Homo sapiens: one gene and its partners. The protein of the gene in region 1 purifies or fractionates together with the protein of each later gene. This does not show direct contact. Each region holds a gene or a part of one and is shown on either strand. Other genes may lie near its edges. The genes, in order: LCP2, HAVCR2 and ICOS.

Region 1 (3,652 bases):
TTGGCCAGAGTTGGGCTTGTTTTTGGCAAGAGCATCCAGGTCACCAGCTGGGCTGGATCTGTGACTTCTGTTTTCCAGCTCTTCATGTAACTTCTGTTCCCCACATCCTGCCCTTGCCCTCATCCTTCCTACTTGCTTTCTTATTTCAAGCCGACAATGACATAGAACTGACCCAGCCCCCACTCACACTACTCCCCATTCCCACCTCTGCTCCCAGATCACCCATAGAGTTGGAGGAGTACTTACGGCACCCGGAGCTTGGGGAACTTCTGGATGTCATTTTCTGTCAGGTTCTGAAATGAAGACACATATGGCAGGCAGGTTACAACCCACAGAAAGGGCTCTGAGCAGGAGGGGAAGAGTGATACGTGAAACAATATAGGGAGTGGTGGGGACTGTGGCAAACAGAGGAGAAACCGCCCTGCCCACCCACCCTCCCCAAGTAGGCAGCCTCTAGATGTTTTGCCTAAAAGCCTGTGGGCCTGCTGTTGCTGGATCTGCTTTTACAAAGGGAATCCTTAAGTCTGGGTTTTATGTGAAATGCTCTGAGTTCCAAATGTTGGCAAATAATTTTGACTTAAACACTGTGAGAGCTAAATCTGTGAAACCAAACGACTCGTTGTGTGGGCTGCATTTGGCCATGTTAGGACCTCTTCCCTACACCCCAGACCTCAGGCCCTCTCAGTCTCCACAAGGTCAGCTGCAGAGAAGCCAGCCTGGAGGAGTCTGTGCCTCTTTTACCAACATCACATCCCAGAGAACCTCTTTCACCAGGGTTGTTGGTAGAATTCTCAAGATATGGGGATGCCATGAAAAGGCTTTCTTGAGGGAACTGAGAAGGGAGGGGAGAAAGAAACTCATATTTGTCAAGAACTAACTCTGGGCCTCCACCTCTTAATGCTTTAGTGAATCCTCACATCAACTCTGTGATGCAGGAGTTACCAGCATTCCCATTTTGAAAGAGAGAAAGCCGAGGCTCAGGGATATCAAGGGGATTTCCACTTGTGGGGGATGAGCTGGGGCTGGAATTCCACTCTGTGACATCCACAGTCTATTTTCTTCCTGCAAACCTCCATCCTACCACGTCTGATCCTTTTGACGGCCCCTGTGGCCTATGTTGGAGAGGATTATGGGGGGAAAGGTGAAAGGAGGCATCTGGAAGGGAGGAGGAGAGGAGAGCATGTCAGAATTGGGAGCAGAAAAGAGACTGGGCATGCTTTCCATAGAACCAATGATGAGCCAACAAAGGGCTCCACCACCATTCTAGTTAAGGCCAGAGGGCTGGGTAGTTAGGGTGGGAGCTCTGGAATCAGATGGGCTGGGTTTGAATTTTGGTTCATTCACTTAGCAGCTGTGTCATTTAGGGCATGCACTTTGCCTCTCTGAGCCTCAGTTTCCTTATCTGTAAAATGGGGACCATAATAATAATAATGATACCCACCTATCAGGATTGTGAGGACTGAGTGAGATGATGTATGTAATGTGTTTTGGCACAGTGCCTGGCACAGTGTGTGACTGAGAAATGGAGGAGTAAGATGAGGAATTACTACCCCTGGTGGGGAAGCAGCAGGGGTCTGGGTGAGTCTTAGAGTTTAGTGTTTTTGCTTCTTTTCCGTTCTGGGAGCTGCCTGTCAGGTTTTCTGACCACTGGAAAGATCTGGGCACTCTTCTTTGAGATCAGCTGGCACAGAGGCTGGGGCTAGGGCATCTTAGCAATGTGTTCACTGGATCCATCTGATCCAGCTCACAGGCATGGTTTCTGATCTGGACGCTGATCAGACCACCTGCGGCAGGGTGGGGCTGGTGAAGGGAGTCAGCCAGAAGTCCTGAGGGCATCGGGCTTTTGGTTAAGCTTCTTAACTACTCCTTTTCTTTCTTTCTTTCTTTCTTTCTTTTTCTTTCTTTCTTTCTTTCTTTCTTTCTTTCTTTCTTTCTTTCTTTCTTTCTTTCTCTCTCTCTCTCTTTCTTTCTTTCTTTCCTTCTTTCTTTCTTTCCTTTCCTTTCCTTTCCTGTCTTTTCTTTTCTTTTCTTTCTCTTTTTTTTTTTCATCACTGAGCAGCATCTCCCTGCTTCTGAACTACTCCCACTCAGGGAGGTACCAAGACTCATGTTTTGAGTGTGGTGTGAGGAGTTGAAGCCTTCCTAAGGGCTGCCAGAGGGGTGGCGGCTGAGCACTGAGCAGCTGGCCACCAGCTTCTGCTCTGCTGAGACGAGGGCGTAAGCTGAGGGAATTTCAGGAAGATTGTGGAGGAGGAGGTGGACATGAGCCTGGCTGGAGACACAGAGGAGCAGGGTGTCAGGAAAGAGGAAGACATTCAGAACGGGGACAAGAACTGTGAGGAAAGATGAGAGATGTTGAAACAGAATTTTTGGAGAGTTTTGCTATGTGATGTAACCCCCTCCTCCACCTTTTCCAAAAGCCTCCAGTAAACTCTGGGTTATTTGCATGATGATTTTGGAGTTAAGATTTATGGCTTTGTGGGAGTATGATTATATGCTGTGGGTGTTGAGAAGAGGGGTACAGAAAGAGGAAAGCCACAAACTGGGCCCTGGTGGGAGAGGCAATGTGGCAGACATGGCTGCTTGCCTACCCAATACCCACTCTCCCTTTGTTTTCCTACTGACAGGTCCTGGGTTTCATTCAGGGCAGTAAATGTGCTTGTTCAAAATATTTAACTCTCCAGGCTCCCTTGCAGATGGTGGAGGTCACATGACTCTGTTGTGGACAGTAAGATATAACCAAAGTCTGCTGGATGGAGCTTCTGGAAAAGTTACTACTTCCCTGGAAAAAAGGGAGCATGCATTTACCATTCACCATACACCTTCTCCTCTTTGCCTTTCTCCCCGTCTCCCTGCCTGCCATGGAGATATGATGCCTAAAGGTGGAGTAGCCAACTGACAACTGTTAGGACAGAAGCCACAGGCTTTTTCCATCGGTTAGATGAAGCCTGGGTTCTTGATGTCTTCTTTCACCATCCCCTGGCACCCGCCTATACATTTATTACTTGAAACAGACTGACCTTTATTTGGTTAGGCCACTGTGGTCAGGTTTCTGCAACATGGGGTCACATGCCTTCCCAACTGACACAAGTCTCAAGCTCCTTTTCTCTTCTTTTTATAACTTCTAGAAGCATAGCTTCTACCAGATAAGGATCTAACCTTTTCAGTGGAAAACAAAAATGGCAAAGAAGTAAAGAAAGAAGAGAGAGAAAGAAGAAAGAAAGAAAGAAAAGAAAGAAAGAAAGAAAGAAAGAAAGAAAGAAAGAAAGAAAGAAAGAGAGAAAGAAAGAGAGAAAGAAAGAGAGAAAGAAAGAGAGATGGAGAGAGGGAAGGAAGGAAGAAAAGAAAGAGAGGGAGAAGAAAGAAGACAGGGAAGGAAAGGGAAGGGAAAAGAGGGAAGGGGAGAGGGGAGGACAAGGGAAGGGGAGAGGGGAGGACAAGGGAAGGGAGGAAGGAAGAAAGGAAGGAAAGAAGGCAGGAAGGAAGGAAGGAAGGAAGGAAGAAAGGAAGGAAGGAAGGAAGGAAAAATAACTAGGGCCTTTCACTTTTGCCTTCAATAGCAGAGTGGCCCTGGATATTACAGAGCTGGAAAGGGTGATAGATTAGTAATTAGAGCTTAGATCAAGCGTCCCAAATTGTACCCAGTGCACTA
Region 2 (3,652 bases), about 13 Mb from region 1:
ACATATTATAGACAAACCATTAAATATTCATTCATTTCAATTTTTTATTTTATTTTCCTATTTAGGAGCTACTGACCTATTTTTGGTTGTTTCAATATTTTTTCTCAGTCAGGCCCTTGAGAAGCTCAGAGGTTCGAGGTATTATTCCTATATTCCCATTTTTGTTGCCCTAGAGGGAAGGAACTAACAAACAAAAACTAAAGGGAAGGCTGGGCGTGGTGGCTTACACCTGTAATCCCAGCGCTTTGGGAGGCCGAGGCAGAGGGATCACCTGAGGTTAGGAGTTCGAGACCAGCATGGCCACCATGGTGAAACCCCGTCTCTAATAAAAATACAAAAATTAGCGGGGCGTGGTGGCGCGCGTCTGTAATCCCAGCTACTTGGGAGGCTGAGGCAGGAGAATGGCATGAACCTGGGAGGCAGAGTTTGCAGTGAGCCAAGATCGTGTCATTGCACTCCAGCCTGGGTGAGAGAGTGAGACTCCGTCTCAAAAAAAAAAAAAAAGGAAAGAAAAACTAAAGGAAAGAAGACTTCTGTCTGTGGTAGAGACAAGTATAAGGAAATGCACCACCTCGACAGGGAGTGAACTCCGTCTACAGCAAATGCCCATTCAGTGGTGATGTAGTAAAAAGTACTGGCCGGGCGCGGTGGCTCACGCGTGTAATCCCAGCACTTTGGGAGGCCGAGGCGGGAGGATCACAAGGTCAGGAGATGGAGACCATCCTGGCTAACACGGTGAAACTCTGTCTCTACTAAAAATACAAAAAAGAAAAAAATTAGCTGGGCTTGATGGTGGGCGCCTGTAGTCCCAGCTACTTGGGAGGCTGAGGCAGGAGAATGGCGTGAACCCAGGAGGCGGAACTTGCAGTGAGCCGAGATTGCGCCACTGCACTCTAGTCTGGGTGACAGAGCAAGACTCCGTCTCAATTAAAAAAAAAAAAAAAAGTACTGAAGCACAGGATGGGAAAGTGAGACTAAATGACCCTTGAAGTCCCTTCTAGCACTATGGTTGTAAGATTCTTTAAAATATAACAATGGCATACAATAAGTATCTGGTATAACTTTATTATTTTCTGTCCCCACCATATTTAGTTTCCTCTCTAATTGCATAAAAGATGTTGGCTACCAATCACTAAAGACTAACCAAAGACTGAAACTTTGGAGAGCTAAAACCAGTAACTATAGTAATAATAAACAGTTGAGTGCTTTTTATGGGCCAGGTACTATGCTGAGCATTTTACATACATTATCATGTTTATACATTACAACCACCTCATGACATGGGCACTGGAATTATCCTCATTGTAGAGATGAGCAAACTGAGCTTCAGAGAATTTGAGCAACTTGACTGAGGTCACAGAGCTATCAAGAACAGCTGAAATTAGAACCCATTCCACCTGTCACTGAAGTACTTTAACCACAATCTCACTGTGCCTCCTGATCTTATAATATTAACGACAACAGCTAACATGTACAAATTGTGGTCAGACATTGGGATAAACGTTTTAGACATTTTCTTATTTAAAGCCCATAAGGTGTGATTTATGAGATTTATGACATTATGAGGTGGGACTCACCTATTAACCTCATTTTACAGAAGAAAAAAAAAATGGAGCTCCAGAGAGTTTAGAAGAGACCAGGACACTGACAAGAAATACCTTAAAATTAACCTTCATGATCAATGTGACTTGACTTCTGCTTTATGCCCAGTGTTCTCTTCTGGAGCACCCTGAGTACGTCCTTGCTGAATTACATGAAGAATTTAACTATTCTTTCTGTGGCTGGAATCCAGGGAAGGTGATGGGCTTTATTCTAGCTAGAAGGCATCCTAGAAATCACCTAATCCAATGTGTCAGTTCCCAAACACAGACTGACACCAGTTCATGACCAAACATCACCAGTCCAGGGTCAGTCAGAAAATGTGGACAAAGTAATGAGCATTTCATTCAATTTAGTTAATATTTAAGTAAAATTAAAGACTATAAAGTTTATTAACTTTTTTCCAGTTAAAATTTAAGTAAAATAATCCTAAGCCAGACCATCTTTTTCCCAGCACAGGTGTGTCTCCACCACTTCCCTCTTTTCAAACACTATTTCAGGTGCACGGAGATATCCATGCCTCCACTCTCACACTGTTTTCTCATCTTTTTTTCCCACATTCAAAATCCTCTGAATTCAGAGCCAGCTAAAGATTCCCTCCTCTGCCCCATGCATAGTTACCTGGGCCATGTCCCCTGGTGGTAAGCATCCTTGGAAAGGCTGCAGTGAAGTCTCTCTGCCGAGTCGGTGCAGGGGTGACCTTGGCTAATGTCAGAAACAACATAAGGATGAAAATTATCTGAGAGCAGAAAGCTTATTTCAGGGAATCAAAGGGGCAGCAAGAAAAAAATGCGAAAGACAATTAAGAAAGAGAAATACACCCTCAGCTTCCAAACCTGCCTGGATACCTACGTTGAGAGTGTATCACACACTTCAAATGTTTGACAAAGGTAAGATGCAGTCATCATTGTTACATTCTGATTATTAATAGCGGAACTAACAGCCACACAAATGGCCATAATTACAGGTTGAAGACTCCTTATCTGAAATGCTTGAGATCAGAAATGTTTTAGATTTTGAATTTTTTTTTTTTTTTTGAAACGGAGTTTTGCTCTTGTTGCCCAGGCTGGAGTGCAATGGCATAATCTCGGCTCACTGCAACCTCCGCCTCCTGGGTTCAAGCAATTCTCCTGCCTCAGACTCCTGAGTAGCTGGGACTACAGGCATGTGCAACCACACCTGGCTAATTTTGTATTTTTAGTAGAGACAGGGTTTCTCCATGTTGGTCAGACTGGTCTCGAACTCCCGACCTCAGGTGATCCACCCACCTCAGCCTCCCAAAGTGCTGGGATTATAGGCATGAGCCACCACGCCCAGCCATGTTTTTATTTTTTTATTTTTTAGTATCTGCCTATACTTATGTTCCAATGAGCTTTTCCTTTGAATGTCATGTCAGTGTCCAAAAAGTTTTGGATTTTAGAGCATTTCAGATTTTGGTGCATTTTAGGTTTTAGATTTTCAGATTTGGGATGCCCAACCTATAAAGGCTTTTAATAAAATATTATCACATAAAATCCTTCTAATGGCCCACATGATCGGTATTATTGTCATATTTTATAGAAGAGGAGCTCACAGCGTTTCAATAACTTGCTCAGGATTATATAGCTAGTAAGAGGCAGAGTTAGATGTAAACTCAGCTCTATCTGGGCACAAAGTACATGTTATAGAAATCTTAAGTCTGTTCACCTCCCAGCATACATGCATAACCCAGCAGTTCACCATGCTGGCTGCACCTGGGGTAAAATCACCTGAGGTAGACTCTGTAAAAAGCTAATGCTTAGCATCTACCTCCAGAGATGCTGATTTCTCTGGTTTTTGGTAGTGGGGTTTTTTCTTCTGCTTTTTAAGAGATAGGGGTAGCCACAGTATATCAGCCAGGCTGGTCTCAAACTCCTGACCTCAAGTGATCCTCCTGCTTCAGCCTCTCAAAGTATTGGGATTATAGGCATGAGCCACTGTACCTGGCATCTATAGTTGTTTAAAAACTCTCTATGTGATTCTAATGAGAGTCAGGGTCTCTAACCACTGATCTAGGCCTTTCATCCCATCTATA
Region 3 (3,652 bases), on another chromosome or scaffold:
TGAGGCATTCCATTAGTGACTCCTGAATTCCACTTGGGAAAAGAGCCCCTCAGTGTCTCCAGCGTCTGAGAGAAGTCTGTGAAGATGACTGACCTTGGAGCCCCTCTTAGCCTCTCCACGACTGAGTAAATGTCATCTCCTGACAGCACCCCCTTCCAGAGTGTTCTTGTTAGATTTAACAAAAATCCCAGTTGTCAATTTTTTCTTTTGATAGATGAATTCAGGCCATTCCCAGTCAGCATAAGCCTCTACTTGATTTTATTTCTATGTTTATTTACTACTTATTTTTCTTTGTTGTATCCTCTTTTTCTCTTTTATTTTTGTTGGTGTGATGAAATTTCTTTTGACTCTCCTCTTTGCCTCCGGTTAATTTGGAAGGTCGACTACAGTTCTTAATTTACTAAGTAATTGACATGTTCAAAGAATCTTAATTGAATGTCTACTTGTTTATCATTGTATGAAAATAATGAAAATGCCTTTGTCTGATGTGCCTAGTCCCCATCCCCTGCACTGATATGAGAACTTAAGAATGTTCTTCCTTTCCCACTCTCACACTTCCCCCAGACAGTGCACCCTGCTCCATACGTGGGTTTTGTGGAAATAATTTAAAACTTACAGTTGCAGATCATTGCTAGGTTTCCTCTTACAGTATTTCTCTTCTGTTTCAAGAATCCTTTCTTAACACTTACATCACATACGTTCAATGACAACATCATTCTGGACATCTGCTCCTGTCTTGTGATCTCTGTTCTAATCTAATGATCAGAAGACTTCTCTTATTTTCGTTAAATACCCCCAACTCTCTGAATTCCAGTACAGGTAAGGGTGTCTTCCTTTTACCTTGATGAGTGACTGATATCTTTCCTGGGAATAGGAGTCCTGGATGGCAGCCTTTCTTCTTAGTGGTTGCAGATATTCCTCCACTGTCTGCTGGCTTCTAGGGTTGTGGGTGAAGAGTTTGATGGTAGTCTAACTCTCATTCCTTTGTAAAAAAAAAAAAAACTCTAGAATTTCATAATCTTGAAAGCTATTTACTTCAGTATTGGAATTCAGGAATTCCTCCAGGATATGTGTAACTCTCTCCCTCTGTTTCTCTTTCTGTGTGTTTCTATTAATTTTTTTTTTGAGGCGGAGTCTCACTCTGTCGCCCAGGCTGGAGTGCAGTGGCGCAATCTCGGCTTACTGCAACCTCCACCTCCCGGGTTGAAGCGATTCTCCTGCCTCAGCCTCCCAAGTAGGTGAGACTACAGGCACCCGCCACCACGCCTGGCTAATTTTTTTGTATTTTTCGTAGAGACGGGGTTTCACCGTGTTAGCCAGGATGGTCTCAATTTCCTGACCTCGTGATCCGCCCACCTCCGCCTCCGCCTCCGCCTCCCAAAGTGCTGGGATTACAGGCGTGAGCCACCGCGCCCCGCTGTTCTATTAATTTATTATTATTTTTTTTAAGACTGGGTGAAAGTTTTCAATCTCTAGACTCAAGCTTTATTCTTCATTTCAGTCATTTTTTTCCTAGTATTTGTTTAATCATACCTTATGCTGTTTTTCCCCACTCTTTCTAGAAATGTCTCTTATTCTTATGTAAGATCTTGAGTCCCTTATTTTTTCATCATTTGTGAACAAAATGGCTTTCACAACTTGCTGTTGCTTGTTAACCACAACTCCTTCAGATGAAATGGATATTTCAGTTTTAAGTTACTAGTAGCATATTCCCATTTCTTGGTAGAAACAAAATGCAGGCATGTAGGGGGGACTGAAATTCTTATATTTACTCACTGTAAGATTCATAGCATTATTTGGCTTAAAAAAATTCATCCCAGTATTCACAGTTGTAAACAGCAAAATCTACAACATATACTGCTTCCCTACTCTAAGAATATTGAGTTTTATATGCAAAATGACTTACTGGGCTTTGCAAATTTTTAAAAATGAGTTTTAAAATCATTTGTAGCTTGCAATAACTGAAGAAAAGATCACAATTTCTCTGTAAATGGCATCTCAGTACTACTGCTGTTCTAATAAACTAGGTCTGTCAAATGGCACTTTTTGGTCATTCAAAGTGAAAAAAACATGGCATTTGAAACCTTATAAAAATTCACAATTATATTTTGGAAAGTGGAACTTAAGTATGTAGGGGATATGTCACACAAATTGAAAGTGTTAGTCAAGAAATGATTTTTTTTTTCAATAGTTTGGCCTGTAAGGTTGACCAAAACAGGTAAAGATTTGCAAGTTTAGAGAGTCAGAAACTGGGGATATGAACTTCCTTCTGGTTCATGTATAACATAATGATGCTTGTATCTACTTTGCTTGAGGAAAAAAAAGAAACACGTTGTCCCCAAATAGGGTGATAGACCAGGAGTTTCCATCCAGTTGACCACGAGTGTTGTTAGGATCTGTTTATTTGAGTCATGTTGACACAGACACAGCACTTTCAATAAGCAATTAATGATCATTTAAAGGTAACTTTTTTGAATTTGATAAATAGATTTTTTTTACAGCCTGTATTTGTGTTCTTCTAGGACTTTGCAACAAAGAATCTGTACATGCAAAAACAACAATAACAACAACAAGCTGTCTACTGCACTCACAGTTAAAGTTCTGTTTACTTTGCACTATCTAGGACTAATGCAAAAATCTCATAGATGTGCCTATTTGCACTTATTTAATTATGATGAAATTTACTTCTATATGTGAATCCATTTCTGTACATTTCTACAGGCAGATAAGTGATGGGAAAATCATTAAGAATTTAGACTTCATCAGAGAAGAACCCAGGTACAATGACAGCCCAGCTTAATACATGATGGCTGATGAATGAAAATGTCTAGGGAAATGAGTGTGTTATGTACAATGTAATTTCATATCTAAGTCACTTTAAAATAATTTTTTGATATATAATAACCCTTTCAATCACAGAACACATATGTGGCACCAATGTGAATACTACTTTAAGTATTAAGGTGATAATATATCCAATATACCTAGAAGGAAAATAAATACCTGAAATTCATTTTCATATCTAGCTTAATGTTAAAAGCTTCTTTTTGTTTTTTTATTTCGTAGCAAATCTCTTTAGCTCTGATGCTTTAGTTTCTGTACAATGAGAGGATTGGACTAGATTATTAGGTGAAGAGATTAAGTAAGTGTGTGTACCCTGGTGTCAAATTATCTTATTCTTTTTTCTTTGTTTTTGTTGGACTGGGTTAATTCGAAGACCTTGTCTTCAAGCTCTGAATTTCTTTCTTCTAGTTGTTCAATTCTATTGCTGAGACTTTCCAGAGCATTTCACCTTTCTAAAATTGTGTCCAAAGTTTCCTGAAATTTTTATTGTTTTTTCTTTAAGCTATCTATTTCCTTGAATATTTCTGCCTTCACTTCTTGTATCATTTTTTGCATTTCCTTGCATTGGGCTTCACCTTTCTCTGGTCCCTCCCCGATTAGCTTAATAACTAACCTCCTGAATTCTTTTTCAGGTAGATGAAGAATTTCTTCTTGGTTTGGATCCATTGCTGGTGAACTAGTGTGATTTTTTGGGGGTGTTGAAGAGCCTTGTTTTGTCATATTACCAGAGTTGGTTTTCTGGTTCCTTCTCATTTGGGTAGGTGCTGTCAGAGGGGAGGTCTAGGGCTGAAGGCTGTTCTTCAGATTT

The links.
Region 2: the proteins of LCP2 (region 1) and HAVCR2 purify together in Homo sapiens (co-immunoprecipitation; one study listed by IntAct). This does not show direct contact.
Region 3: the proteins of LCP2 (region 1) and ICOS purify together in Homo sapiens (co-immunoprecipitation; one study listed by IntAct). This does not show direct contact.

The regions. Positions count from the first base shown.
Region 1 is NC_000005.10:170,287,724-170,291,375, forward strand, and holds part of LCP2 (lymphocyte cytosolic protein 2), read right to left. Parts: intron 294-3,652; coding exon 247-293; intron 1-246. UniProt on the Homo sapiens protein: Adapter protein primarily involved in signaling pathways within T-cells, as well as other immune cells such as platelets, mast cells, and natural killer (NK) cells.
Region 2 is NC_000005.10:157,102,446-157,106,097, forward strand, and holds part of HAVCR2 (hepatitis A virus cellular receptor 2 precursor), read right to left. Parts: intron 2,305-3,652; coding exon 2,221-2,304; intron 1-2,220. UniProt on the Homo sapiens protein: Cell surface receptor implicated in modulating innate and adaptive immune responses. Generally accepted to have an inhibiting function.
Region 3 is NC_000002.12:203,939,677-203,943,328, forward strand, and holds part of ICOS (inducible T-cell costimulator precursor), read left to right. Parts: exon of another isoform or gene 1-758; coding exon of another isoform or gene 759-819; intron 820-840; exon of another isoform or gene 841-1,082; intron 1,083-3,652. UniProt on the Homo sapiens protein: Stimulatory receptor expressed in activated or antigen-experienced T-cells that plays an important role in the immune response.